3 separate regions of the Homo sapiens genome follow, and all the other regions are linked to region 2. Evidence: fine-mapped expression QTL. A gene starts in region 2. Each other region holds a variant in brackets. All regions are shown on one strand. Distances are from middle to middle. Region 1 has its middle 24 kb from the start of CEACAM20. Region 2 holds the start of BCAM (basal cell adhesion molecule (Lutheran blood group)). Region 3 overlaps ERCC2 (ERCC excision repair 2, TFIIH core complex helicase subunit).

The links. PIP is the estimated chance that this variant, and not a neighbour inherited with it, causes the effect.
Region 1: its variant is fine-mapped to the expression of BCAM in whole blood (TOPMed, PIP above 0.99).
Region 3: its variant is fine-mapped to the expression of BCAM in stomach (GTEx, PIP above 0.99).

The regions. Positions count from the first base shown.
Region 1 is chr19:44,548,069-44,558,456 of GRCh38, reverse strand. It overlaps the pseudogene CEACAM22P. Among named protein-coding and RNA genes, the nearest start is that of CEACAM20, 24 kb to the right of the region's middle. The variant C/A (reference allele first, on the strand shown) is at 4,462.
Region 2 is chr19:44,804,119-44,814,506 of GRCh38, reverse strand. It overlaps BCAM (basal cell adhesion molecule (Lutheran blood group)), which reads right to left and starts at 5,404. Exons shown (of 15, transcript NM_005581.5): 1 at 5,301-5,404; 2 at 3,161-3,282; 3 at 2,116-2,344; 4 at 1,959-2,029; 5 at 1,161-1,257; 6 at 887-1,069; 7 at 219-355. The coding sequence starts at 5,382. RefSeq lists enhancers at 500-1,032, 1,684-2,230.
Region 3 is chr19:45,354,236-45,362,970 of GRCh38, reverse strand. It overlaps ERCC2 (ERCC excision repair 2, TFIIH core complex helicase subunit), which reads left to right. Exons shown (of 23, transcript NM_000400.4): 12 at 1,329-1,447; 13 at 5,272-5,341; 14 at 5,428-5,497; 15 at 5,600-5,701; 16 at 7,243-7,306; 17 at 8,120-8,241. Among named protein-coding and RNA genes, the nearest start is that of ERCC2, 12 kb to the left of the region's middle. RefSeq lists a silencer at 5,510-5,676. The variant C/T (reference allele first, on the strand shown) is at 4,777.

The DNA.
Region 1 (10,388 bases), 260 kb after region 2:
GGATTACAGGCATGAGCCACTGTGCCTGGCTAATTTTTGTATTTTTTAGTAGAGATGGGATTTCGCCATGTTGGCCAGCTTGGTCTCGAACTCCTGACCTCAGGTGATCCGCCCACCTCTGCCTCTCAATGTGCTGGGATTACAGGCATGAGCCATCGCGCCTTGCCATGATTTTTATTTTTCATTAGTGCTCATGGTATATGCTGCCCAGTGAGTTGTACCAACTACATTATTGTAACATCTGAATCAACTGTGGGCTACATTGTTTGATCAAGATTGATAGATTGCTTTATTTATTTATTCTTCTTTTACAACTATAGCCTACAGATAAACAACCATTATTACAGAGATTAAACTTGATTATGCTACATATCATATTACATGAATCACTCTGTGTCTACAAAGGCAAATTGACTGGATAAAATTCATTAAGGTGTAATGCCAAATAATTGCTTTATCATGATACAATACAATACTTATGTCTCACTTCCTTTTTTTTTTTTGAGATAGAGTCTTGCTCTGTCGCTCAGGCTGGAGTGCAGTGGCAGGATCTCTGCTCACTACAACCTCCGCCTCCCGGGTTCAAGCAATTTTCTTGCCTCAGCCTACTGAGTAGCTGGGATTACAGGCACACACCACCATGCCTGACTGATTTTTTTATTTTTAGTAGAGACGGGTTTCACTATATTGGCCAGGCTGGTCTCGAACTCCTGACCTTGTGATCTACCCACCTTACCCGCCTTGACCTCTCAAAGTGCTGGGATTACAGGCGTGAGCCACCGTGCCCAGCCTATTTTTTTTTTTTTGAGAGAGTCTCCCTCTGTTGCCTAGGCTGGAGTGCAGTGGTGCAATCTCAGCTCACTGCAACCTCTGCCTCCAGGCTCAAATGATTTTCATGCTTCAGCCTTCTGAGGAGGTGAAATTACAGGTATGCACCACCCCGCCCAGCTAATTTTGATATTTTTAGTAAGAGACGGGGTTTGGCCATGTCGGCCAGGCTGGTCTCGAACTCCTGGCCTCAAGCAATCCACCTGTCTTGCCGCCCAAAGTGATGGGATTACAGGTGTAAGCCACCATGCCTGGCCAGGTCTTACTTCTAAATTGGTTAAAATAACTCATTTATAGTATGTGAACATACTATAAATGGGAAAATCATGCTTCTGCATTTTTGGGTTTTATTGAACACTAAATTAGCTGCTTAGGAGTTGATCTTTGCCAACTCAATTATCATATTTTGTCCTGTCTTTTTTTTCCTATAATTTTTCTACTAAAATTATACCAGACTAATCATTCAATTATAATTTGGTGAGGGTTTACCTTGAGAAAATATATTTCGTGAGATTCTATTTTTTCTTTGATCTTACTTTGGTATGCCCTGACTGCTACAAAACAAGTAAGTGCTGTTGCTATACCGATAACAGAGATTTATTTGGTCCCTCAAGCTGATCAACTGAGGGATTTAGGTCTGTAACCATGTCTAGAAAAAATGCAAATGTGGGTATTTGATAATGTTTTCTTACTGTCAGTATGCATTTGGAAAGCATTCAGCATTACTTCTTGGAGTTAATTGTTTTATAGAGCTAATTATGAAGGTTTTAAGACCTCTTTGCGTAGATGTTGTTTTATTTTTTAGAATAAATTTATTCCTACACCTATTTTCCAGAAAGACACTGGTAGAATCATTCTAATAATAAGATGGAGTGGAATGAAGGGGACACTAATAGAAAATGAAAGGCCATGAAATGTAAATATACGTCTTCCTTTCAGTGGGTGTAATTTATTATTGACACACAGGACTTTTAGGACGACTGAATGATGAAAGAAGAGAAATTCTCGAAATGACTGAAAGAGAGTGGTGAGTACTTCCGCAACCCCTTCCATGAGTGTCTGTGCCTCTCTGATTTCTCTGAGTACAAGAGGATGCAAGCCCCAACTGAGGGCAGGCTGAAAATGTCAGAGAAATTAACATCCTGGGAGTGACCATTAACTAACACCAAGAAGGAATTGGTAGATATATTCCCCTGAACTTAGGGGGAACAACTCAGAGGTGGTTTTATTTTTTGTTGTTGTTGTTTTGTTTTGAGATGGAGTTTCGTTCTTGTTGCCCAAGTTGGAATGCAATGGCACGATCTTGGCTCACCGCAACCTCCGCCTCCCAGGTTCAAGTGATTCTCCCACCTCAGCCTCCTGAGTAGCTGGGATTACAGGCATGTGACAGCACGCCGGGCTAATTTTGTATTTTTAGTAGAGAGGGGGTTTCTCCATGTTGGTCAGGCTGGTCTCAAACTCCCGACCTCAGGTGATCTGCCTGCCTCAGCCTCCTAAAGTGCTGAGATTACAGGCGTGAGCCACTGCGCCCGGCCCTCAGAGGTGTGTTTTGTACCAGTTTTCAGAGGTGAGCTCCAGTTTTCTATAGAGCTAATTTTTCTATATGGCTTCCTTCTTTTCCCTTACTTACTTTCCCACACCTCTGCCAATGCTTTCTCCAAAATAAACTAATTGCACTAAGGTGTGGTGGCTCACGCCTGTAATCCCAGCACTTTGGGAGGCTGAGGCAGGTGGATCACGAGGTGAGTAGATCGAGACCATCCTGGCTAACATGGTGAAACCCTGTCTCTACTAAAAATACAAAAAATTAGCCTGGCGTGGTGGCAGGCGACAGTGCGAGACTCCATCTCCAAAAAAGTAAATAAATAAATAATAAACTAATTGCACTTACATTCTAGTGCAGAGTCTGATTCTGGGTGAACTAAGAGAGTGAATAACATTTACTATTTCAGTTTCTGTACCTCGATGTCCAAGTGTCCTCAACTGGGTTCTCTCACCAGGTCAAAATCAAGGTGTGATGTGAGTTGGCTGGGGTTTACCTGTAGGCTTTGGGAAAGAACCCATATCCAAGCTCATTCAGATGGTGGCAGAATCCTGGTTCTTTTTTTTTTTTTTTTTTTTTTTGAGATGGAGTCTCGCTCTGTCGCCCAGGCTGGAGTGCAGTGGGGCGATCTCGGCTCACTGCAAGCTCCGGCACCCACCAGCATGCCTGGCTAATTTTTTGTATTTTTAGTAGAGACGGGGTTTCACCATGTTAGCCAGGATGGTCTCGATCTACTGACCTCGTGATCCATCTGCCTCGGCCTCCCAAAGTGCTGGGATTACAGGAATGAGCCACTGTGCCTGGCCAGAATCCAGGTTCTTACAGTTGTAGGACTGAGGTCTGTTTCCTTGCTGGCTGTCATCTGCGGGTGCTCTAAGCTCTTGCAGGCCACTCTACCCTGCTCACACATTGACCCCTGCATCTTCAAAGACAGCAAGGATGCATTGAATCCTCCTTGTGTTTTGATTCTCTGACTTTCTCATCTGATCTGCTTTTAAAAGAGTCACCTGATCAGGTCAGGCCCACCCAGATGATCTGTATTTTAAGATCAGCTGACTTTGAGCTTTAATTACAAAATCCCTTCAAAGCAATACCTAGATTAGCATTTGATTGAACAATCAGGAACAGAAATCTGGAAGGACTATATTTAGAATCCTGATTACCACGCTGGCATTGGGGTTTACTCAGTTTCTTGATTCCATAGATGTATGTCTTTTACCAGATTTGGGAAACCAGCCATTATACCCACTTCCTCCTTTCCTTCTGGGTCTCCAATGACATGAATGTTGGCTCTTTTGTTAAAGTCCCACAGGTCCCAAAGTTCTGTTCTTCACTTCTTATCAGTCTATTTTCTTTCTGTTGTTCAGATTTGGTAACTTTTATCTGCACTGATTTTTATCTCTGTCATCTCCATTCTGCAGCTGGGCTCAAACATTAAGTTTTTAAAAAATTTCTGTTATTGTGCTTTTCCATTCTAAAATTTCCGTCTTGTTCTTTTTCATATCTTCTATTTCTTTGCTGAGACTTTCTGGTTTTTCACTTATTTCAAGTGTTTGTAATTGTTCATTGAAGCATTTTTATGTTGGCTGCTCTAAGATTCTTTTAAGACAATTCTAACATCAGTGTAGTGAATTCTTACAATTTTATAGAAACTCAGTATCAATTTTTGAAATGTTATTGTTTTGAGACAGGGTCGCACTCTGTCACCCAGGCTGGAGTGCAGTGGTGCAATCACGGCTCACTGCAGCCTCGAGCTCCTGGGCTCAAGTGAACCTCTCATCTCAGTCCCCCAAGTAGCTGGGACTATAGGCGTATGCCACCACACCCAGCTAATTTTTTGAAATTTTATTTGTAGAGACGGAGGTCTCACTGTGTTGCCCAGGCTGGTCTCAAACTCCTGAGCTCAAGCAATCCTCTTGCCTCAGCCTCCCAAAGTGTTGGGATTACAGATGTGAGCCACTGTGCCTGGCTCAGTATCTATTTTGAATATAAGTTGGACTTTCTCATACCATAAGAAAAGCTTAGTCACCCTTGACACAGTTTCCAGGTCTCCGCCTCCCCCCAGATCCTTAATGTGGCAGATCCAGATA[C/A]CTGCCTTACACTACCACTTCCTGTTAACCACCTCCTTATGCAACAGCTAGATATAACTCACCTGACTGTCCCCCTGACCCCCAGACCCTGCATAGGCTGTGCAGATATGCCACAGTGATCACCTCCCAGTCAGTGTGACTCCATGCAACTTGTGCCTGCTGGCTCTAAACCCAGTTAGAATTCTCTGTGGAAAACTGCCTGAGCAGTTTCCTTAGACTCCAATAAAAGCATCAGCCCACAGGTCTCTCACTTTCTCTTTCTTGCTCCCCACCCGCTGGTTGAGTGTGCGTGTCCCGACAACTCTCTTCTTCCTGTTGGCTCTGTGAGATGTGCTGCTCTGTCTTCTCCGGAATCTGTGAGTAATAAACTGCCCCTGTTATTTCATGTGTTTTGTTGTGCTGCCTCCTCTGTGTCTCACCTGACTGACACATCCAAACCTAACGTCTTTCCTGGTCAGGGCTGTCCTAAAGCATGGCTCTCTTTGTAGAAATAAACTGGACACAGGTCAGACAAAAGCCTTAAGAATGTCTGCCATTATAAACAAGTGTACTGTGGCCAGGTGTGATGGCTCATGCCTGTGATCCCAGCACTATGGGAGGTTGGGGTGGGAGGATCCCATGAGGCTAGGAGTTCAAGATCAGCCTGGCCAACATGGTGAAACCCCGTCTGTACTTAAAAAAAAAAAAAAATTAGTTGGGTGTAGTGGCATATGTCTGTAATCCCACCTACTCAGGAGGCTGAGGCATGAGAATTGCTTGAACCTGGGAGGTGGAGGTTGCAGTGAGCCAAGACCATACCACTGCGCTCCGACCTGGGTGACAGAGTGAGACTCTGTCTCAAAAACAAACAAACACACAAAAAATAAGTGTACTGTGAGAGGGACACCTGGTCACAGGTCAGACATGTAGGCATTAGGCCGACCACCAAGATAAAGAAGTAACCAGTGAAAATTACACTTTAAACATCTACAACTAAATCCCCTAGAAAACTCAAGACCAAGTTAGAAAACATCAACAACAATCCATGTCATCTCTATTAATTGTCTTTCCTCATTTAATTTCAGGAATGTCTTTCTCATTCAGTCAATTTTTTTTTTTTTTTTGTAGAGATGGGGTCTCACTATGTTGCCCACGCTGGTCTCGAACTTCTGAGCTCAAGCAATTCTCCCACCTCGGCCTCCCAAAGTATTGGGATTACATGTAGGTGTATGACAAGTGATTTTCAACAACACCCTGGACATTTTGGAAATTATGAGACGCTGGATCTCATTTAAATCTTCTGTTATAGCAGGTCTCCTCTGACATCTTGCTGGTGGGGCAAAAAGGGCACCATCTTGTTATAGCCAGTGGGGATGGAGGTCCAGGTTCCCCATTTGGCCTCTGTTGACATTCCAGGTGGGGCGGGGCAACTGTTACTCTGGGCAGTTAGCAGAGTTCAGGCTTTCCACTGAGACATCCTCTGATACCATCTTGCCCAGAAGGGGCAGAGACGCCTCGTTACCGCTCCCTAGTGGCCTCAATGGACACTGCAGGGTCGGTGCTCATTACTGCTGGGCAAGGATGACAGTCCCAGCTGCTTATTCAGCCTGGTGGAGGGGATGGGTGTCTCTGTACAGCTGGCAAGGGTAAATGTCCAGGCTTTTCTGTGGGATATCACAGCAGCAAAGTGATTATCTTGTAAAGATTTGCTGTCTTTAGCAAATCTTGTCAGGCTACTGCTCCTTGTCCTTTGGCTAGAGCAGGCTTTGCTTGAGCCTCTTTTGGATCTACACTCATTGGCATTTCTAGATTGCCAGGCTCTCCAGCTCCCAGTCTGGGATCTGTGAGGCGCAAAGAAAGTCCAGAAAACTCACCACCATGTGCTTTCTCCGGTCTTGAGATCCGCAGCCAGTCTGCCATATTCTCTCCTCCTTTCCGAGTCATCTATTTTTATTTATTTATTTATTTATTTATTTATTTATTTATTTATTCATTCTTTAGCTGCACCTGTGATAGACTGCTTGATATTATTCCCATAGAACAATGATGTTCTGTTCATATTTTTGAGGCTTTTTCTCTATTGCTTTATTTTATTTTATTTATTTTTCCATAGATTATTGGGGTACAGGTCGGTTTGGTTACATGAGTAAGTTCTTTGGGGGTGATTTGTGAGATTTTGGTGCACCCATCACCTGAGCGGTATACACTCCACCCTATTTGTAGTCTTTCATCCCTCACTCCCCTCCCACTCTTCACCCCAAGTCCCCAAAGTCCATTGTATCATTCTTACGCTTTTGTGTCCTCATAGCTTAGCTCCCACATATCAGTGAGAACATATGATGTTTGGTTTTCCATTCCTGAGTTACTTCACTTAGAATAATAGTCTCCAGTCTCATCCAGGTCATTGCAAATGTTGTTAATTCATTCCTTTTTATGACCGAGTAGTATTCCATCATTCATATATATATATATATATATATATATATATATGAACATATATATGAACGTATATATGAACATATATATGAATGTATATATGAACGTATATATGAACGTATATATGAACGTATATATGAACGTATATATGAACGTGTATATATGAACGTATATATGAACGTATATATATGAACGTATATATATGAACGTATATATATGAACGTATATATATGAACGTATATATGAACGTATATATATGAACGTATATATGAACGCGTATATATGAACGTATATATGAACGCGTATATATGAACGCGTATATATGAACGCGTATATATGAACGCGTATATATGAACGTATATATGAACGCGTATATATGAACGCATATATATGAACGCATATATATGAACGCATATATGAACGTATATATAAACGCATATATGAACGTATATATATGAACGTATATATGAACGTATATATATGAACGCATATATGAACGTATATATATGAACGCATATATGAACGTATATATATGAACGCATATATGAACGCATATATGAACGTATATATATGAACGTATATATGAACGTATATATGAACGTATATATGAACATATATATATGAACGTATATATGAACATATATATATATATCACAGTTTCTTTATCCACTTGTTGATTGATGGGTATTTGGGTTGGTGCCACGATTTTGCAATTGTGAATTGTGCTGCTATAAACATGCGTGTGCGAGTATCTTTTTTGTGTAATGACTTCTTTTCCTCTGGGTAGATACCCAGTAGTGGGACTGCTGGATCAAATGGTAGTTCTACTTTTAGTTGTTTAAGGAATCTCCACACTGTTTTTCATAACGGCTGTACTAGTTTACATTCCCACCAGCAGTGTAGAAGTGATAATATCCAAGGTTTTTAACTGTGCTCGGGATGGAATAGGGAAAACTGTGCCTGCTTCATTTTCTGAGATTTTTTAAAAATAGATTTTTCTACATAGTATTTATTTCACAGTGGTTATGAAGTTTGGAGTCACATAGCCCTGAGTTTAAAAATGATTCACCCACTTACAACTTGGTTTTTCACAACTCACTTACCCAACATAAACCTCAGTTTACCTGTTGTAAAATGGGATATTAATAGTCCTTACAGCACAGGGTGGTACCAGTAGTACATGAGATAATGCTTGCAGTGCAAGCAATGGAAGCAATGCAAGCAAGCATCCAGCAGTTTTTTTTCCTTTCTTCCTTTTTTTTTTTTTCATTTTTTTGAGATGGAGTCTCACTCTGTTGTCCATGCTGGAGTGTCGTGGTATGATCTCGGCTCACTGCAACCCCCACCATCCAGGTTCAAGAGATCCTCCCACCTCAGCCTCCCAAGTAGCTGGAATTACAAGTGCGTGCCACCACACCTGGCTAATTTTTGTATTTTTTAGTAGAGACGGGGTTTCACCATGTTGGCCAAGCTGGTCTCAAACTCCTGACCTCAGGTGATCCACCTTCCTCAGCCTCCCAAAGAGCTGGGATTACAGGCCTGAGCCACCACACCCAGCCGGTGATGGATATATTAATTAGCTTGATTGTAGAGATCAACTATCAAAACATCAAGTTGTACACTTTGAACATACAACATTTTTATTTGCTTATTATACCTCAATAAAACTGTTTTTAAAAGTGTAATCATTGGGTCAAAAGTTATATAAACATGTGTAACTTTCAACTTGTATTTCTAAGTTGACTTCAAGAAAGATATTTACTTCCTGTCAGGCCAGCACTTTGGGAGGTCAAGACAGGAGGATCACTTGAGCCCAGGAGTTTGAGACCAGCCTGGGCAGCACAGCAAGACCCCACCCTACAAAAGTTTTTCAAAAGTAGCTGAGGATGGTGACATGCATGGATCTCAGCTACTCAGGAGGCTGAGGCGGGAGGATCGCTTGTGCCTGGGAGGTTGAGACTATGGTGAGCCGTGTTAGTGCCACTGCACTGAAGCCTGGGCAACAGAACAAGACCCTGTCTCAAAAAAGAAAGATATTTACTAATTTGTAATCTAGGTATAAGATTCCTCACTTGAAATCTAAAGTTGGTCTTTAGAGTGCCCCATAACCCCTTGAAATTATATACAAATGTGTAGGTATTTGTGTGGTGTGTGTGTTATTGGGTGTATTTCTGGGGAGAGGATCTGGGATCTCTAGACAGTTAAGAACTTCCGGAAGTAGAGCTGTTGGCTGTGTGTGTGTGTGTGTGTGTGTGTGTGTGTGTGCTTATTGGTCATCTTGGAAACAGCAAAGCCAACGCTGGTGTTTCCAAGGTCCCCAGCCTATTCGTGCTGCTGATCATTCCTAGGGTTCCAGATCCTCCCATGTCCTATAACGCCATTCTTTCTCTTTCCTTCTCCCCAGAGAAGCTGCACCAGCCCCCGGTGGAAGCCCAGAACTTGGCCCCTCTGGAGCACACAGACTCCTTGAATTTGACATGCATTTCTCCAAACAATGACAGGACATTCCAGTGGTTTCTGAACCTTGAGGTGATTCAGGAAGGGGATGGACCAGTAATCTCCAGAGATGGCAGGGTCCTCACCATCCCCACAGTCACACGCAATGACTCCAGCACCTACCACTGTGAGGCCAGGAACCACCTGGGATCCAGGCTCAGTGAAGCCCTCGTGGTTGGCGTGGCTTGTAAGTCTGGGTTTCTTTGCTCTGACTCACCTCTGATCCACACAGAACCTCCAGCCCAACTATCTACTGGTTCATCCATGATTTATAGCTTAGCGTTTAAATCAGAGACTCTACAGACTGCCTTGGTTCAAATCCTAGTGCTTCTGTTTCTTTTATTTATTTATTTATTGAGTCATGGTCTCACTCTGTTGTCCAGGCTGGAGTGCAGTGGCTGGATCATAGCTCACTGCAGCCTTGCCCTTCTGGGCTCAAGCAATCCTCCTGCCTCAGCCACCGGAGTAGCTGGGATCGCAGGCACATGCCTCTATGCCTGGCTAATTTTTACAAGTTTTGGTAGAGACAAAGTCTCACTATGTTGCCCAGCCTAGTCTTGAACTCCTAAGCTCAAGCAATCCTCCTGCCTCAGCCTCCCAAAGTGCTAGAATTACAGGCGTGAGCCTCTGCGCCCAGCCGTCCCTGCTATTTCTTAGCTAGGTGTCCTTGGGCAAGTCACTTCACTTTTCTATGTCCTCAGTTTTCTCATCTGCAAAGTGAGAATCATAATATTATCTATCTCATTGGGTGATTATGAGGATTAAGTGAGTTAGTTCATTTAAGGAACTTAGAATAGTGCCTGGAACATAGCAAGTGCTTCTTTTTTTCTCTTTTTTTCTTTATTCTTTTCCACTACTCTGCACACTAAGTGCTTAATAGACGTTTACAATGACTATTCTCTCAGAAGTTTATCATCATTTATTTATTTAAGGGGCATGTATTGAGCTTCTACTATGTACCCAATTAAGGACTTTCAGACCCATTCAATCTCAGGTACAAAGGTAGATGGAGATTG
Region 2 (10,388 bases):
AGAATCAGGGGTCAGGGGCCATCAAGTCAGGTGGCATGCTAAGTCCTGACTCTCTCAAATCAGGGGTCAGAGGTCCTTTTAGTTCGTGGGCCACCAGATCAGGTGGCTGCCTAAGCCATGGGGACTCCCAGGTCCCACATTAGAAGTTATGCAGGTTAGCAGGTCACAGAGGTCAGGGGCTGGGGGGTGGATCCCAGAGGGACCCTTGGGTGGGTCACCTGAAGGCGGAAAAGCGTATACTCCGGGCTGGGGCTGCCGTCCCCCCGGCAGAGCAGCTGGACAGTGTCACCCTCGCGTACCCAGCCTGCTGGGGTGGACGGGCTGCCCACCCAGAACTGCACGTGCTCCGTGGGATCTAAGGGAAGGGCAGGGAGATGGGAATTGTGATCAGGGGAAGGGTCAAGGCTAGAGGACAGGCGAGAGGTCAGCCCTGCATCCCAGGTGAGGGCTATGGCGGGTCAAAGGTTACGGGTCATAGGTTTCAAGCCTCAGGTTCACAATTATTCTGAGTGCCAGAGTTCAGAGGTTGAAATAAACTAAGAGTATAGGTCAAGAGTCAGAGGTCCGTATGGGCGATGGGTCAGTGTGAGACTTGGAGCCAGATGTCATGGGGGGACCCAATTCAGTGTGAGAAGGTGGAAAGCACCATTTAGTCATAAACTTCATGGGGTCCAGGGTGCTAAGTGGAGGTCGGAGGTCAGAGGTCAGGATGGGGCTTGTGCGACCAATTGAGGTCAGAGGTCAGTGGCCAGCACTAGCACATTTTTTTTTAGCATGAAGTAGGGAGGCAGAGGGTCAGAGGGGAGTGTGAAGCCCCCGGGTGGAGGGTCAGGCCTCATGAGGTGTGGAGCCTGAGGTCAGAGGTCAAAGGCCAGCACAGACTCACAGTGCAGGGTGAGGTGGAAGGTGGGGCTGTCCAGGCGGCCGTGGCGGCCCTCGGGCAGGCTGTAGTGGGCGGCGCAGTGGAAGCTGGCGTCTCGGTCATCCTTGCGGAGCCGCAGGTAGAGGGTGCTGGTGAGGGAGAGCAGGCCCGAGGCCTCCCGGACCGTGCGGCTGGTCATGTAGCCCTCTGGGAGAGATCGGGGGAGGTGGCAGTCAGCCAGGCCATAGCCCCGCCACCCACCCCAGCCCACGTCCCGCCGCGCTCCTGCGCTGCTCACCTGGGTTCATCTCTACGGGCACCTCCAGGCGCTGCCCGTTGCGATACCACGTGATCTTGGGGGCCGGGTTCCCGTTCCGGCTGTTGCAGGTGGCGATCTGAGGCAGACACGGGCATGGCCCTGGGCTTGGAGCTGGGACTCTGAAGTCGGGGCTCCTCTCTCAGGAGTTCTCCCCACTCAGACTCATGAGCCGGGCTCCTAACTCCCGACTCTCCCAGGACCCAGGAGTCCAAATTCCTAGTCCCCGACTCAGACTAAAGAGTCCAGGCCTCCAGCACCATCCTCCAGGGACCAAGGATTCTGGGTCCCCCAGCTCTCTCCTTCCTAGGACACAGGAGTCTTCCCCCTCTGCCCTTCCTTTCTTTTTTCTTTTCTTCTTCTTTTTTTTTTTTTTTTTGAGACGGAGTATTGCTCTGTGGCCCAGGCTGGAGTGCAGTGGTGTGATCTTAGCTCACTGTAGCCTCTGCCTTCTGGGTTCGAGTGATTCTCCTGTCTCAGCCTCCCGAGCAGCTGGGATTACAGTTGCACACCAACACACCCAGCTAATTTTTGTATCTTTAGTAGAGACGGGGTTTCATTATGTTGGCCAGGCTGGTCTGGAACTCCTGACCTCAGGTGATCCGCCTGCCTCTGCCTCCCAAAATGCTGGGATTACAGGCATGAGCCACCTCGCCTGGCCTTACCCCTCCTCCTTTATTACCCAGGGGTCCCCAGCCCCTCCTCCCTCAGACCCAGGAGTCCAGGGCCCTGTCCCCTCCTCCTCCAGGACCCTGGGGCCAAGGTCCACCCGAGAGGTACCTCCTGGGCAGAGTCCTCCATCACAGACAGTGTCCCTTTGTTGGGGGAGACCTCAGTGGCCTCTGGCTTTGCTGTGAAAAAGACGTTCACGTCAGGAGCCCCTGCCCTGCGCCCCTCCCTGCCTGCCTCCCTTCGGGGGATGCCCGAGGACACTTACCAAACACGTTGAGCCGCGCAGTGGCCTCAGCAGTGCCTGCCGCCCCTGCCCTCACCACGCACACGTAGTCTCGCTCGTCGCCCACCTGGGCCTCAGCCAGCACCAGGCGCCCCTGGGAGTCCAGCTGGTATGGGGGACTGCGGCCCCGGGTGTCGTGCATTGTGACCTGGAGCTCAGAGCCCTGCATCTCAGCCGAGGCTAGGCGGGGGCGAGCTCCCGAGCGGTCGGTCTGTGGGCGCGGGGCAGGCTCTCAGCTCCGGGTGTCCCAGCGCTCCTCAGTCTCTCTCTCTCTGGGTCCTTTCTCTCTGCAGCTCCTGGCTCTGCCTCTTTTCCTCTTGTTATGGGTCTCCCTGGTCCCTCTGTCCCTCCCCACCTTCTCCTGCCCCCATTCCCTATCAGTTCTTGATTTTTCCTGTCTCCTTTTCTCCATCTCATTCCGGTCCCATCCCTTCTCCTCTTGGTCTCTCCCTCTCCCGATTGTCTCTCATTTTCTTTCCTCTTTTTTTTTGAGATAGAGTCTTGCTCTGTCGCCTGGCTGGAGAGCATTGGCTCGATCTCGGCTCACTGCAACCTCTACCTCCCAGGTTCAAGCGATTCTCCTGCCTCAGCCTCCTGAGTAGCTGGGATTACAGGCACATGCCATCACGCCCAGCTAATTTTTGTATTTTTAGTAGAGACGGGGTTTCACCATGTTGGTCAGGACAGTCTTGATCTCTTGACCTCGTGATCCACCCGCCTCGGCCTCCCAAAGTGCTGGGATTACAGGCGTGAGCCACCGTGCCTGGCTTCTGCTTTCTTGATGTCTGTCTCTGTTCTCTCTCTCAAGAGCCCGCAGTCCAGAGCAGGTCAATGTCATTCTAGACTTGGCTGTGCCTAGACACGGGGCACCTTGCAGATCCCTTCCCCTCAGTGGGACTCAGTGACCCCATCTGTAACAAGGAGTGTGGCTTGGTGGATCTCTACAGGCCTTAGGCACTGATGAGAGAATGAACCTTTGCTGCCCTGCTGTGCCCTGACTCCAGGCCCCCCAGCCCCAAGCACTCACAAGGAACCATTCCAGCATATAATGGTCGTGGGTTCCCGTAGGGGTGCAGTCCAGAATGACAGACTTTCCTCGCATCACCTCCACCAGCGGGGGTACAGACAAGCGCACCTCCGCCTGGGCATCTGCAAGAGAGCAACTGAGCTATCATCCACCACACCAACAGGAAGAGCCCTCCAGACAGGGTCCCCTCTCCCCCAGGACACAAGCGTCCAGGTCCCAGCCCCTCCTCCCTCAGACCCAGGAGTCCAGGTGCCAGCCCCTCCTCCCTCAGACCCAGGAATCTGGGCCCCTGTCCCCTCCTCCCTCAGACTCAGGAGTCTAGGCCCCAGCCCCTCCTCCCTCAGACCCAGGAGTCTAGGCCCCAGCCCCTCCTCCCTCAGACCCAGGAGTCCAGGCCCCAGCCCCTCCTCCCTCAGACCCAGGAGTCTAGGCCCCAGCCCCTCCTCCCTGAGATCCTTTCGCCCTCCATCCCTTCTCCCTGCATCTCTGGGTCTCAAATCCATCTCTCCCTGCACTTGCAGAGCTCAGGGCTCCTCCTCTGGGCTGCACAGGGCCCTGTGGCCTCCGCTGAACACTCCTGGGGTAATACTGCACCAGCCTTTGCTTATCCCAACAGAGCACACGCCACCCCCCAGGGCAGGGCCAGGCCTGGCTCAGCCATTTGCCTCCAGCACCCTGGGCAGGGCCACCTCTGTGATGATGGATAAATGTTTCTCTCCATCCTGGTCTCCACCTTTGCGTGTGTCTCTCCTCTTGGGTCTCCATCTCTGTCCCTGTCTCTGCCTCTCTCTGCACCTGCACCACTCAGTCCCTGGGTCTCTTCCGCTCTCCCATGAGTGAGGGGCTGGGGTGTGGGCTGCGGCTGGGCCCGGAGCTTAGGCGGGATGGATGTGTGGGGGCGGTGAGGGGGGACAGGGCTGGGCAGGTTTCAGGAATGTGGGAGGGACAGGCTGGCTGAGACCTGCCCGGCCTGGAGCCAGAGCCCCCAGCCGCCTCTTGGCCCCCCTCAGTTTGATACAACAGCAAACGGGATAAGTCGAGTCATCTTGCAAAAGGATAAGGTTGAGGCCCAGGATCTTGGGAAGCTGGGCACCTGGACTCCTGGGATCAGAGGGAAGAGGAGGCTGGGGCCTGGTGGAGTAGTTATTGTAGAAAAACCACCACCCTCCCTCACCCTCTGGGCTGGCATCCTGGCATCAGCTCTCAGTGCTTCTTAGAAACTCCCTTCCCTTCTCTGCTCAATCTGGCCCAGCCCTACCCCTGGGGACCCACTGTTGACCATGAGTGTGCCAGGGGCCTGGATTCCCAAGCGCTCACCTCTGGCCCCAGCCTGTCCCCAGGGAGGGGTGACGGGGTCCAGGCTGGTGCCTAAGGCTGGGTCTGATCTGCAGACAAGTGGAGGCAGAGAGTTCCTCTCTCTTCCCCAATCTCTCTCATCTCTCTGTCCCTCTGTCCCCAGCACCCCCACCCCCACCCCCCAGCCCCCGGCCTCCTCTCCTTCTATCCTCATGCAGGTGTGTAAATGTAGCTGAGGCCCCAGGAAGGGGGCCTGTCACTTGGAAACACTTTGTTCCACTGTCACTGCCCGGGGCTGGTGCTCCAGCCCTTTCCTGAGGGAGGCGGGTTCTTTATACTGGACTCTGGAAACTCCTAAATACATGTGGATCGCTGGTGTGGGGACACATGGTCCTCGCTTCTCTAAGGGGTCCCTGGACCTCTCAAAACTTGAGGACCTTTGAGGGAGAGAGCCCTGGGGTTTTGATCCTCTGTGCCCTGGGGGAAGCTATTCTAGCCACTGGAGGCCTGGACTCCTGGGTCTGAGGAAAGAGGGGCTGGGGGCCCAGATTCCAGGGTCTGAGGGAGGAGGCAGGTGGGACCCAGATTCCAGGGTGCTGAGTGGGAAGGGGGCTGACTTCTCTGGTTGTCTCTGATCCACCGCCTGGGTATCCCCAGCTCTCCTGCCTGGCTGTCCCCAGATCTCTCTCACTGGAAGGCGTACCTTCCAACACTCCCATATCCCTCCTCCTTGGGGTCCCCACATTTTGCTTCCTGGGGTCAGGGTAAAGCCCTTTCTCCTCGCTTTCCCGGGGTCCCCAGGGGCCTCTCCCCAGTCCCACCTTGCCCTCAGCCCGAGCCATACCTGGGTGCGCCGCCAGCAGGACTGCGAGCAACAGCAGCCGCGGGGCCCCGCGCGCCTGGGCCGGTGCGTCCGGGGGCTCCATGTTCACGGCGGCGGCGGAGACTGAGCCCGGGCTGCAGCTCGGCCGCTGCGGGGCTGGGAGCCAGAGGCCCCGCCCCCGGCAGCCCCGCCCCGCCCCGCCCTCCAGGCCCCCCTCGTCCCCCGATGCCCGGGCGCGGGGCCAGGACCTCCCACTGCCCGGAGCGGACCTCCCAGTGCACGGGGCCAGGCTCGGGGCTCGTCCGCCCCCAAGCCTAGAGCTGTCCGGGCTTACTGACCAGCGCCTGCAGCGGGGGGCCTGATCGACCAGCGTAGCCAGTGACCCGAGCTGGGATCTCACCAGGCAATCGCGGACCTTCTCCTCGTTATTCTGACCAGGGGCCTTGGGGACTCGTCCCCACTGTGACCAGCAGCCTGGGCTGGCATCGTCGATTTTAACCAGAGGACCCCACTGCAACCTGTGGCCTGCGATGGCCTCTCCCAGTGTAACTAATGGCCCCAAGCGTGCCGTCCGAGTGGCCTGCACTGGCCTCTCCCAGTCCAACCAGTGACCCCCGCAGCCTGACCAGTGGCCCCCAGCAGCTGCTCCCAGTATGCCCGGAGATGTTTTCCCCTGTGGTCAGTGCTCTGGGCTGCTTTCCTCGTCTGACCAGTAGCCTGGAATCAACCGGTTTAATCTCTTATTTTCAATGGTCTTCAAATCCAGGTCCTCCTAGGCCGCTTCGATGATGGGGCTGGGGGTGGGGTACGGGGTGCCCTCTCTGCTTGCTCACCCATGGAAGGCCCTCCCACTCTTCCCCCTATCCAGGGAATCCCAGGAATGCCACCCTCCCTTCCTCCTTCCCGCTCTCTCCTTCATTCCCTCCCAACCTTGTGGGGAAGGGAGGAGTCAGACTGGCCAGAGCAGGTGAGGAGGGCAGGGGAAGAGGCCAGGGCACCTGCGGGAAGGGGGAGGAGTCCAGCCACTGCTAGGAAGCGTGGGTCACAGGTCCGACTGCCCAAGGCCCCTACAGGCCAGGTCAGACTGGGACAAAATCCCCCACTAGATGTCACTAGTTGCCCAGGACAGTGGTCAGAACGTGGGAGGGTGGGGGGTCGCTGGCCACACTGGGAGAGGTTACCCAAGCTTCTGATCAGCCTGGGGGTTGAGGTAGCCCTGGAGCTGGGCTTTGCCTGCTCAGACATACAGAGAAGGCTTGGATTACAGGTCAGCCTGGGAGTTATTAGACTGGTCAAGGTTACTTTATCCATTGGTCATACAGGAGACCAACGTTTTTTTTGTTTGTTTGTTTTGTTTTTGACAGGGTCTCGCTCTGTTGCCCAGCCGGGAATGCAGTGGGCGCAATCATAGCTCATTCAAACCTCAACCGCCTGGGCTCAAGCAATCCTTCCACTTCAGCCTCCCAAGTAGCTGGGACTATAGGCTTGTGTTACCATGTCCAGCTAATTTTTGTATTTTTTTGGTAATAGAAACAGGGTATTACTATGTTGCCCAGGCTGGTCTCCAACTCTTGGGCTCAAGTGATCCTCCTGCCTTCCAAAGTGCTGGGATTACAGGCATGAGCCACTGCATCCATCCTACAGAGCAACTGTTACATTGGGAAAGACCTTTTAGGATTAACTGTACCATCCCCTCCTCCAGGAAGTCCCCTCTGCCTTCCCTGGCTGGGTCAGGTTCCCCCTCTGGGCTCCCCCACCTGAGCCCGGCACACTCTGGGGGTCCCTGGCTGGGGATAGGTCTGTCTCCCTCAGTGGACTGTGAGCCTGTGAGGGCAGGGCCAGGGATGTCTTGATCACTGTGGTGAGCTAAGGGCTCCTCCCCTGGGCACCCCGCCCAGCACAAGACCAGACACAGTGCAGGTGCTCAGGGAAGGTTTGTTTGCAAGGCACACAAACTCACGTGCAGATTCCATCCAGACTGGAGCATCCCAGGATATACAATACAAACTCACTCATGGGGAATGCGGCGGCACTCCAAGACAGTCCCAGGTGCTGTCAAGCTCACACACTGTGAGCACCGACACCCATACCCTAGCTCTTCTGTCCCCAGCCTGTGCACCTTCTGTTTGGGCTGGACCCTGGTACATGCCCTCTCAGCAGCCATCGCCCACTTCCACCTCCCTCAAGAACCCAGCCAGCTGAGGCTGGGCGCTGTGGCTCATGCCTGTAATCCCAGCACTTTAGGAGGCCGAGGTGGGTGGATCACCTGAGGTCAGGAGTTCGAGACCAGCCTGACCAACATGGTGAAACCGCATCTCTACTAAAAATACAAAATTAGCTGGGCGTGGTGGCACATGCCTGTAATCTCAGCTACTCAGGAGGCTAAGGCAGGAGAATCGCTTGAATCTGGGAGGTGGAGGTTGCACTGAGCTGAGATCGTGCCACTGCACGATGTTGCCTGGGCAACAAGAGTGAAATTCTGTCTCAAAAAAAAAAAAAAAAAAAAGAAGAACCTAGCCATCTGAGGTTCTGGGTGAGGGAGGAGAACTCTATGGCATGTGTATGAAGGAGAAAAGTCAGAAACACCAAAACAGCAGCCGTGGACCCTTGCAGACTTGCAGAAACTAGTCTTGTAACATCATCTGCCTTTGTCCCCTGTAATTTATTCTCACAAAACAGCCTGAAGGATTCCTTTTACATGTGAATCAACTCATGTCACTCTTCTGCCCCAGGGTCCTCCCATGACTTCTGTCTCACTTAGGGTAAAAGCTGAGGTCCAGGTCAGCCGCAGGGACTCACGTCTGTAATCCCAGCAATTTAGGAGCCTGAGGCGGGAGGACTGCTTGAGCCCGGGAGTTTGAGACCAGCCTGGGCAACATAGCGAAACCCCGTCTCTACAAAAAAATATAAAAATGGCCAGTCATGGTGGCCCATGCCTGCAATCCCAGCACTTTGGGAGGCCGAGGTGGGTGGATCACCCGAGGTCAGGAGTTTGAGACCAGCCTGGCCAAAATGGTGAAACCCCCTCTCTACTTAAAATAAAAAAATTAGCCAGGGGTTGTGGCAGGTGCCTGTAATCCCAGCTACTCGGGAGGCTGAGGCAGGAGAATTGCTTGAACCTAGGAGGTGGAGGTTGCAGTGAGCTGAGATCATGCCATTGCACCCCAGCCTGGGTGACAGAGCGAGACTCAGTATCAAAAAAAAAAAAAAAAAAAAAAAAAGTTCTAATTCCATCCATGCGGCCGCAGGTGTATATCCTCACATATTTTAACTAACAAGGCTTATCTTTTCTGAAACTCTGGGCTCAAGCGATCCTCCTACCTCAGCCTCCCAAAGTGCTGGGATTATAGGTGTGGGCCACCACGGTTGGCCAGACTTACCTTTTCATTGTTTTTGAGACAGAGTTTCACTCTTGTTGCCCAGGCTGGAATGCAATGGCGTGATCTTGGCTCACTGCAACCTCCGCCTCCCAGGTTCAAGCAATTCTCCTGCCTCAGCCTCCCAAGTAGCTGGGATTACAGGCATGCGCCACCATGCCCGGCTAATTTTGTGTTTTTAGTAGAGACAGGGTTTCACCATGTTGGCCAGGCTGGTTTCGAACCCCTAACCTCAGGTGATCCACCAGCCTCAGCCTCCCAAAATGTTGGGATTACAGGCGGAAGCCACAGTGCCTGGCTGACTTATCTTTTCTTGACCTTTTTTCCCATTATTTTTCACACAGTGTGTGACGATTAACTTTACAACTAGCTCACAGCTTGTGGAATATGGGGAGAATGACATATTTGGAGGGGAATGGTTCTTCCCTGATTCCAGTCTCAGATCTGGAAAATGGAACTATTGAAATTTTTTGTATTGGGTGGCAGTGTGAATGCATTTTTTGATTGTACAATGAGAGACGGTTGTGCGGGGAAAGTTTCGATAAGAACTTCTGCAAAGGGCCTATTGATATTGAACATTCAAAGCCAGCTGTGGTGGCTCATACCTACAATCCCAGCACTTTGGGAGGCTGAGGCAGGTGGATCGCTTGAGCCCAGGAATTTGGGACCAGCCTGGGCAACATGGCAAAACCCTGTATCTACAAAAAATACATATTAACCGGGGGTGGTGGTGGTTTGTGCTCGTAGTCCCAGCTACTCAGGAGGCTGAGGTGGGAGGATCGCTTGAACTGGGGAGATCAAGGCTGCAATGAGCCAAGATCGTGCTACTACACTCCAGCCTGGGTGAAAGAGTGAGACCTTGTCTAAAAAACAAAACACAACAAAAAAAACCAAAGGAGCGGGCTATAGTACATATTTTGCGGGAAGGATTACCTAGCATCTGCAGCTCCTTCCCACATTTAAGGAAATTCCTACTGTCTGAAAGCCTCTGTTGCCCACTCTTGAAGCCAACAAGAATGGATGTTTGCTTTCCTGCATCTGTTGGAGCTAAGGTGACTTAAGCTTGGCAAATCCTTCCACACTTTTGAATATCAGGAATTGGCCACCTCTTCCAGCCATGCATGGCAGCTGGGACAGATTCTGTTTTCCAAAGACGGCTACAACAATCTCTTTCTTTTTTCTTTTTGAGACAGGGTCTTGCTCTGTCACCCAGGTTGGAGTGCAATGGCATGATCATGGCTCACTGCAGCCTCGTCCTCCAGGGCTCAAGTGATCCTCTCACCTCAGCCTCCTGGGTAGCTGTGAGTACAGGTGTGCACCACCACTCCTAGTTAATTTTTTTTTTTTTGTAGGAATGGGGTTTTGCCATGTTGTGACAGTGTCTTTCATCCCATGTGTGTTTCCACAATGAGAGCTTGATACTCTTTCCATCAAGAGCTGGGGTCTATGGCACCCTCCTCTCAAATCTGTGCAGTTTGGTGACTTGCATACAACCAACAGAATTCAGCTGAAGTGAAGTTGCGGAACTCCCAAAATGAGCTAGAAAAGGCCATGCAGCTTCTGCCTGGGTCTTCAGCGGCCATATAAAGTTTGACTACCTTGAGGCAGCCATGCTGTGGGGAAGCCCAAGCTGGCCAGTGCAGAGACTATATGGTGGGGGAGGCCCTGAGACCACAGAGAGATGCCCACTTGTCCAGCACCCCCAGCCGCCCTGTGGCAAGCATCACTGATT
Region 3 (8,735 bases), 550 kb before region 2:
TGTTCCTTACCTCAGTTGCACCCCCAGTACAGCATCCCCACCCTGCAAATGAGGACACTGGGACTCCCAGAGGGGAAGCCTTTGCCCAGAGCCACACAGCACTGTGCCCGGTAGTTGGGGCTTGAAGCCATGCCTGTGGGCTCCAAAGGCCCTGGCTGCCCTGCCTCTGTGGGTGAGGCCACCTTCCATGTGGGTTTGCCCATCTTCCCCAGGATTGGAGACTTGTGAGGGCAAAGAGGGGATCTCAGTCACTCAACACACATTCCCCAAGTGCCTGCTTCATGCTGGGGACACAGCCGTAGAGGCTCCATGGCCCAGTGGAGGGGACAGACTCATCCTCAGCTAGCGACCAGCCGGGGTAGGCGCCTGGGGTTAGAGGAGCCAGGCTGGGAGGGCTGACGTGCGGGAGGCAGGTTTGCAAGTGTGACTGCCCACCTGGCTTCAAAGCCAGCTGCTCTATGACCCTGCCTCGGCCCTGCCTGTGTGTGGTTGTGGCCGAGTGGCCCTGCACATGCGTGAGTGTGTGGACGTGGTATCCGTGGGACTCTGTGGGATGTGGGTGTTGACTGCATTCCTCTGTGAGCCCATGGGGTTCCGACACCGTGTGTGTCCCCATAGGTGCGTGAGAGGCAGTGGGAGAGGCTCTGGGTGTGAATGCGTGACCATGTGGCCATGCGGGATTAATGCCATGACTGGGGGGTTCTGGGTGTGATTGTGCGTCTCTTGTTTTGATCAGAACCCACTTAGGGCCAGGTGCAGTGGCTCACACCTGTCATCCCAGCACTTTGGGAGGCTGAGGCAGGTGGATCACGAGGTCAGAAGTTCAAGACCAGCCTGGCCAACATAGTGAAAGTCCGTCTCTACTAAAAGTACAAAAATTAGCTGAGTGTGGTGGCAGGCACCTGTAATCCCAGCTACTTGGGAGGCTGAGGCAGGAGAATCATTTGAACCCAGGAGGCGGAGTCGAGATGGTACCAGTGCTCTCCAGCCTGGATGACAGGGCAAGACTCCATCTGAACAAAGAAAAAAAAGAAAAAGAAAAAAAGAACCCACTTAGGAGGTCGTGCTAGCAGGTGTGACAAGTGACCACATGACTCTGGAGTGTCTGATTATTGCTCTGTCTGTGCCATTATGCGGCAATGGCTATTTGTGACATGCAGGTGTACAGCGTGGGGGTGCAAGTTTCCAAAACAGGCCCAGTGCCCACCCTCACTGAGTGCTCATTGGCTGGGGAGACAGGCACGTGACCGTCGTGATGGCGGAGGCAGGGCTGCTGGTCCTGCTCATGCTTCCGTCTGCCCCCCGACCCCGTCTCTCCTCCCCGCCAGATTCTGTGCTGAACGCCTCCGGTCCCTGCTGCATACTCTGGAGATCACCGACCTTGCTGACTTCTCCCCGCTCACCCTCCTTGCTAACTTTGCCACCCTTGTCAGCACCTACGCCAAAGGTAAGCTCACCTTTTTCTGTCCCTGCTGGGCCTCCTAGCAGCTGGAATCAGGGTCCCAGCAGGGTCTAGAGGGTTGTTGGCAGGACACACAGGGCTTTGTGGGGTTTGGCTTGGAAGTGTGGGCCCTATTTTGAAGGCAGTGGGGAGCCATACATAGTTCTTGAGTAAGCCTTGTGCTCAGATTTACATTTTCACAGACTTCCTCGGGCTGCAGAGTGGAGAAGGATGGCATGGGCAGTGGTAAGGGAGGAGGCCAGAGAAATTCTATGGGGTCAGCTCACACTAGAGGGCACGGTAATGAGTTGATCTTTGTGCTCCTGAGGGCACTGGGGAGCCATGGCAGATTCTAGCAAGCAAGGTGCCAGGTCAGATTTGTGCTTTTTTTTTTTTTTTTGAGACGGAGTCTTGCTCTGTTGCCAGGCTGGAGTGCAGTGGTGTGATCTTGGCTCACTGCAGCCTCTGCCTCCTGGGTTCAAGCAATTCTCCTGCCTCAGCCTCCCGAGTATCTGGGACTACAGGCGCATGCCACTATACCCAGCTAATTTTTGTATTTTTAGTAGAGGTGGGGTTTCACCATGTTGGCCAGGACGGTCTCGATCTCCTGACCTCATGATCCACCGGCCTCGGCCTCCCAAAGTGCTGGGATTACAGGCGTGAGCCACCATGCCCGGCCCAGAGTTGTGCTTTGGAAAGATTTCTTCTGGGTGCTGAACGCAGTGGCTCATGCCTGTAATCCCAGCACTTTGGAATGGTTAGGCAGGCAGATGACCTGAGGTCAGGAGTTCGAGACTGGCCTGGTGAACATGGCGAAACCCCATCTTTACTAAAAATACAAAAATTAGCTGGGGCCAGACATGGTGGCTCACGCCCATAATCCCAGCAGTTTGGGGGGCCGAGGTGGGCAGATCACTTGAGGTCAGGAGTTTGAGACCAGCCTGACCAACATGGTGAAACCCTGTCTCTACTAAAAATACAACAATTTGCCAGGTGTGATGGTGGGCTCCTGTAATCCCAGCTACTTGAGAGGCTGAGGCAGGAGAATTGCTTGAGCCCAGGAGGCAGAGGTTACAGTGAGCCAAGATTGTGGCACTGCACTCCAGCCTGGGCAACAGAGCAAGACTTCGTCTCAAAAAAAAAAAAAAGGCCGGGCGTGGTGGTTTACGCCTGTAATCCCAGTACTTTGGGAGGCCGAGGCGGGCGGATCTCGAGGTCAGGAGATCAAGACCATCCTGGCTAACATGGTGAAACTCCGTCTCTACTAAAAATACAAAAAAAGTTAGCTGGGCGTGGTGGCGGGCGCCTGTAGTCCCAGCTGCTCAGGAGGCTGAGGCAGGAGAATGGCGTGAACCCAGGAGGCAGAGCTTGCAGTGAGCCGAGATCGTGCCACTGCACTCCAGCCTGGGCGACAGAGCGAAGACTCCGTCTCAAAAAAAAAAAAGAAAAAAAATAGGCCTGGCATAGTGGCTCATGTCTGTAATCCCAGCACTTTGGGAGGCTGAGGTGGGTGGATCACCTGAGGTCAGGAGTTCGAGACCAGCCTGACCAATATGGTGAAACCCCGTCTCTACTAAAAATACAAAAATTAGCTGGACGTGGTGGCACGCACCTATAGTTCCAACTACTCAGGAGCCTGAGACAGGAGAATTGCTTGAACCCGGGAGGCGGAGGTTGCAGTGAGCCGAGATCACACCAGCTGCACTCCAGCCTGGGTGAAAATGAGAGTCTGTCTCAAAAAAAAAAAAAGAGTTCTTCTGGCAGGGACTAGAGGCAGGAGACTGGGTGGCAGGCAGGGACCTGAGCAGGAGGGGAGGGGCCTTGGCCAGGATGTGGCCATGGGGAGAGAGAAAGGTATGGTTTGGAGAGAGATGTGGGAGGTAGAGAGGCTGGGATATGGGGAGCGTGGTGCCTGGGTTTTGGGACCAGGGACAAGAGGAGTAGAGGCTGATGTTCAGATTTTCAGGTTACGAGAGAGGGACATCATTCTGGAGGCTTTATGGGCCGGTGTTCCCTCCCCATCCTCAGCGTGAAGCTGACCAGGGGCTCAGTCTGCCTCCTGGGGGTTTCTCCTGTACCCAGGAAACCAGATCGGGCCTCATGTCCTGCGGCAGGGCCTGACAGGAGGATGGAGATCTGGGCCCTTGCCCTGGGGCTGGGTAGCGAGGCCGGCTGGCTGCTGCTTCTGCCTCTGTCTCTCTGTCCTGCCCCATCTTCCATCCCTACCTTTGTCATTCTCTACCCACTATTTCCCATCTGCCAACACCTCATGGTCTTTCACCTGGATCATCCTTCCTCATCTTCCTCATCCCCCAACCACCTCCCCCTCATCCTTAGGTTCTCAGCTTAGTAGAGATGTCTTGTCCTCCAGGAAGCCCTCCCTGACCCCCAGGCTGAGTCAGGCCCCTCCTCTGGGCACCTCTGTCCCAGCACTGCCCACTCTCAGTCATCACTATCTGAGGACAAGTCTGTCTCCTACTGGACTGCGAACCCATGCGAGCAGGGGCAAGGCTGGCTTGGTCACCACTGTGTCCCCAGCACAGAGGACTTGATTTTTTTTCACTGTGTGAAACCGAATATGTAAATTCATTCATTCATTTATTTCTTCAACAAACAGGCCAGGCTCAGCACTGTGGAAGCAGCAGGAACCAAAAAAGATCTCATCCCTAACCCCCCAGAACTTATATTCCAGATGGGAAAACCAGTAGCAAAGATGCAGCCAAATAAACAAGGAAATAATTCCAGAAAGTGACAGTTATCATGAAAAAAAATACATTGTTGTGTTGGAATATGTCTGCGTAGAAAAGGTGGCTGGGGAGGGCCTCTCGGAGGGGCTGACTTTTGAGCAGTCTCAGATGACCAAATGGAGCAGCCTTGGGAGGTTTTCCAGGCCACATGGGACCAGCAAGTATAAAGGCCCTGGGGGGACTGAGCCTGCTGATTTTTGAAGGTCAGGCACCAGGCCACTGGAGGCATGTGGGGGCCATGGGAGGCTTCTTGGGGCGGGGAGGTGACATGGCTGGACTCAGGGACTCAGGTTTCCCTAGGGTCCCTCTGGCTGCCGTGAAGCGAGCAGGGGATGATGGGTCCAGGCAGGAGGTGATGGTGGCTGGCCCCGCGTGGGGTCGGGGGCAGTGGGCGAATTGCAGGTAGGTTTTGGAGGCAGAGCTGCCCGGCTTTGCTGATGGCTTAGGTAGAAAGGTCGTGGGAGGCCAGGTGCAGTGGCTCATACTTGTAATCCTGGCACTTTGGGAGCCTGAGGCGGGTGGACCACTGCAGGTCCCCCATCTCTACTAAAAATGTAGAAATTAGCTGGGTGTGTTGTAGGGGGGTGT[C/T]CCTATAATCCCAGCTACTCAAGAGGCTGAGGCAGGAGAATCAATCACTTGAACCCAGGAGGCTGAGCTTGCAGTGAGCCGAGATCATGCCACTGCACTCTAGCCTGGGCGACAGCGCGAGGCTCCATCTCAAAAAACAAAAACAAGAAAAGGTCATGGGAGAAAGCTTGAGGCTCTGGCTCCTGGCTTTGGCGTGGGTGCTGGGCAGCCCATGCGGTGCTGGGAGAGTGAGCAGTGGGCGGGGCTGTGGGCTCTCTACTTGGGATCCTTCGTGAAAGTTTGCACAGGTGTGGGCCCGAAGCGGACAGGTTGGGGTGTATTTTGGACTCAGATGCCTGGTTTGGGGCTTAAGCAGTCATGTTTGGTCGCATTTACTCCCAGGCAGTACGGGGTGGAGATTGGGGTGAAGCGAGGGAGCAGGAGAGGGAATGACTGAGTGGGTGCAGCTGTGGCTGTAGTGGGGTAATCTCACCCCTCCTTGCCTGCCCTCTGCAGGCTTCACCATCATCATCGAGCCCTTTGACGACAGAACCCCGACCATTGCCAACCCCATCCTGCACTTCAGGTGGGACCCTGCCCGGTGAGGGTGTGAATGCTCTGTGGGTCGGGGGCCCAGCCCCCCGGGCCCTCACTGCCCTCATCTCTCTCCAGCTGCATGGACGCCTCGCTGGCCATCAAACCCGTATTTGAGCGTTTCCAGTCTGTCATCATCACATCTGGGGTAAGGACCCTTCCCCGTCCCCTCCTAGTCCCTGACCTCCCTCCATGGGCCTCCTGGTCCCTGCCCAGTCCTGCTGAGATCCCTCCCACTGTCCCGCCACAGACACTGTCCCCGCTGGACATCTACCCCAAGATCCTGGACTTCCACCCCGTCACCATGGCAACCTTCACCATGACGCTGGCACGGGTCTGCCTCTGCCCTATGGTGAGTGGGAGAGGCTAGGGCTGGGGCCGGGAGGGGAGATGGGGGCAAGGGGCCGCCCTCCTTCCTTGGCTTCCCCCACTGCTCAGGCAGGAGAGCTTTACAGCGAAGAGGCTGGGTTCGGGATTCAGACAGACTTAGGCTTGATTCTGCTTCTCTGTGGGCTCGACTCTCAAGCCTCAGTTTTCTCATCTGTGAAATGGGAATGTATCCTCCCTGATCTCCCAGGGTGGTTGAGAGGATTGAGAGAGAGAACTGGGGTAAACCACTTAGGTCGCCCAGGGCCTGGCACAGGTAGGCGCTTAGTCAGCATCTTAGCATCTTGCCGAGTACGTGGTCTGGCTGTGACCCAGGTAAGTGAGCCTTCCTCTCCGTCTCCGTCTCTGTAACACGTGCATGTCAACATGAGCCCTCAGTCCCTTATCTGAAGTCCCCAGGCTGGATGTGGTTTTTTGTTTTTGTTGTGCGACGGAGTCTTGCTCTGTTGCCCAGGCTGGAGTGCAGTGGCACGGATCTCAGCTCACTGCAACCTCCGCCTCCTGGATTCAGGTGATTCTGATGCTTCAGCCTCCTGAGTAGCTGGTACAGGCATGTGCCACGATGCCCAGCTAATTTTTGTAATTTTAGTAGAGACGGGGTTTCACCACGTTGGCCAGGCTGGTCTGAAACTCCTGACCTCAAGTGATCCGCCCGCCTGGTCCTCCCGAAGTGCTGGGATTACAGGTGTAAGCCACTGCGCGCAGCCATTTGTTTTGGAATTCAGAATTTTCCAGCCTTTAGAGACAAGGCCTATGCTGTGTGGTGTGTGATGCCCACAGTGGGGTCTGGGCAGCTCCCCCGAGTCAAACTCCCATTTCGGCAGTAAAAGATTGGGAAGCATCACACTAAGGAGTAAGTCAGGCCTCTGGAGAGACTCGGGGCAGGGCAGGTTTTGCTGCTTCATGAGTTTGTGCCAAACTTGAAAAAGAAATGTGTTCAGAGCTTTTGGCTTTTGGAGTTGCCTGTCAGAGGTTGTGGACCGGTAATGACCCCCACTGCATGGTGGTTGTGTGAGGTTGCCGGCTGGTGGGATGCCCGCCGGCATGGCGAGGGGTGTTCTTCGGGATCCGGCTGGCCCAGGGCCTGGGGCTGGCTAGAGTGTAGCTGCTGTTGGAGAGTGTGGACAGACTCGGGTCCGGTTCCATCTTTGCCACCTGTTTGCTGTGTGACCTTGGGCAGGCAACTCACCTTCTCTGAGCCCAGGTCATTTGTGCAATGCAGATAACAGGGTTGCTGAGGGTTCATTCAATGACACTGTGTTTATAAAAAGTTTAGAGCAGACTGGGTGTGGTGGCTCATGCTTGTAATCCCAGCACTCTGGGAGGCCAAGGCGGGATGGTCACTTGAGGCCAGGTGTTCAAGATCAGCCTGGGCAACATGGTGACACCCTGTCTCTCTTTAAAAAAAAAAAAAAAAAAAGCTTAGAACAGCACCAGCAGGTGGTCAGCACTCACGCTGGAGCAGTTGCTGCTGCCTCGCTTATCGTGACCTCTGTTGCTCTCCAGATCATCGGCCGTGGCAATGACCAGGTGGCCATCAGCTCCAAATTTGAGACCCGGGAGGATATTGGTATGCTGCCAGTGGGGCTGGTTTCTGTGGGTTCCAAGAGGGGAGGTGTATCAGTCAGGTGGGCTGAGTCATGCTGCTGTAACAAATATCCCTGGCCTTAGTTGCTCAGCCCAGAGTTTCCTTCTTGCCCGTGGTACACGTCCACTGTGAGCTGGTAGGGGCCTGCCCTGTGTCTCCTCACCTGGGAACCTCCACCGCTGGGTGTGTCAGAGGCAGCATAATGTGACAGGTGGGATCACAGTGGTCACAGTGTATTGTGCACTGGTTCCTAAGGGTGCTCCCCTGGAAGTGACACATGGCCTTTTTTTGAGACAGAGTCTTGCTCTGTTGCCTAGGCTGGAGTGCAGTGGCATGATCTCGGCTCACTGCAGTCTCTGCCTTGCGGGTTCAAGCGATTCTCATGCCTCAGCCTCCCGAGTAGCTGGGATTACAGGCCTCTGCCGCCACGCTGGGCTAATTTTTGTATTTTTAGTAGAGATGGGGTTTCGCCATGTTGGCCAGGCTGATCTCAAACTCCTGACTTCAGATGATCCACCCGCCTCGGCCTCCCAAAGTGCTGGGATTACAGGCGTGAGCCACAGCGCCCGGCCCCTTCTGCACTCATTTCATTGGCCATGGCAAATCACATAGCCAGGTGTGACTTCAGGAAGTGGCAAGGCGGGTCCTCAGACACGCCCGGGAGGAGGAGGAGGGGGATATGTGTGAAAAGCCTGACAGGCAGCCTCAGTGGGGTTTCCAGAAACTCCTAGTTCTAAGACAGAGAAGGGAGGAGGACCTGGGCCAGGAGAGGGCCCAACCTCTGACCCCTTGCAGCTGTGATCCGGAACTATGGGAACCTCCTGCTGGAGATGTCCGCTGTGGTCCCTGATGGCATCGTGGCCTTCTTCACCAGCTACCAGTACATGGAGAGCACCGTGGCCTCCTGGTATGAGCAGGTACGCCTGGCCACCCCCTCCCTGCACCTGCTCTCCTCAGTCCCTGGCACTGCACCGCTATGTCAGCTTCATTCCTCTCACACTCTGATGGTGACAGGTTTCCTGTGTGACAGGAGAGTGTGTGCAGCATGTAGGAATGGGGTGTAAGCAGCACACACCCCCATGCCCCGCCCCCAGTACATCAGGCTGAGAATGCAGATATAAGCCCCAATGTGGGCCCCTCCCTCAGAGGAGTACCCTGTGGCAGAGTCACCCCCACGTTCTAGGTTCCTTGCTTCTCTGCTGCTTTTGGGGTTACCCATCCCTGTTATCCTCCAGCACAGATGGCCTGGTGGGGAGGCCCAGATAGCAGGCGTGGCTCTAGCTGGGTTAGAGGAATTCTAGAGAATTAAGGCTGGACCAAGACTCGGGGCGAGCCTCTCAAGGGTCTGCAGGAGCCCCTTCAGGGAAGCAGCTAGAGGAGGTCGTGGGGCATTCTGGAAACAGGGCTCACC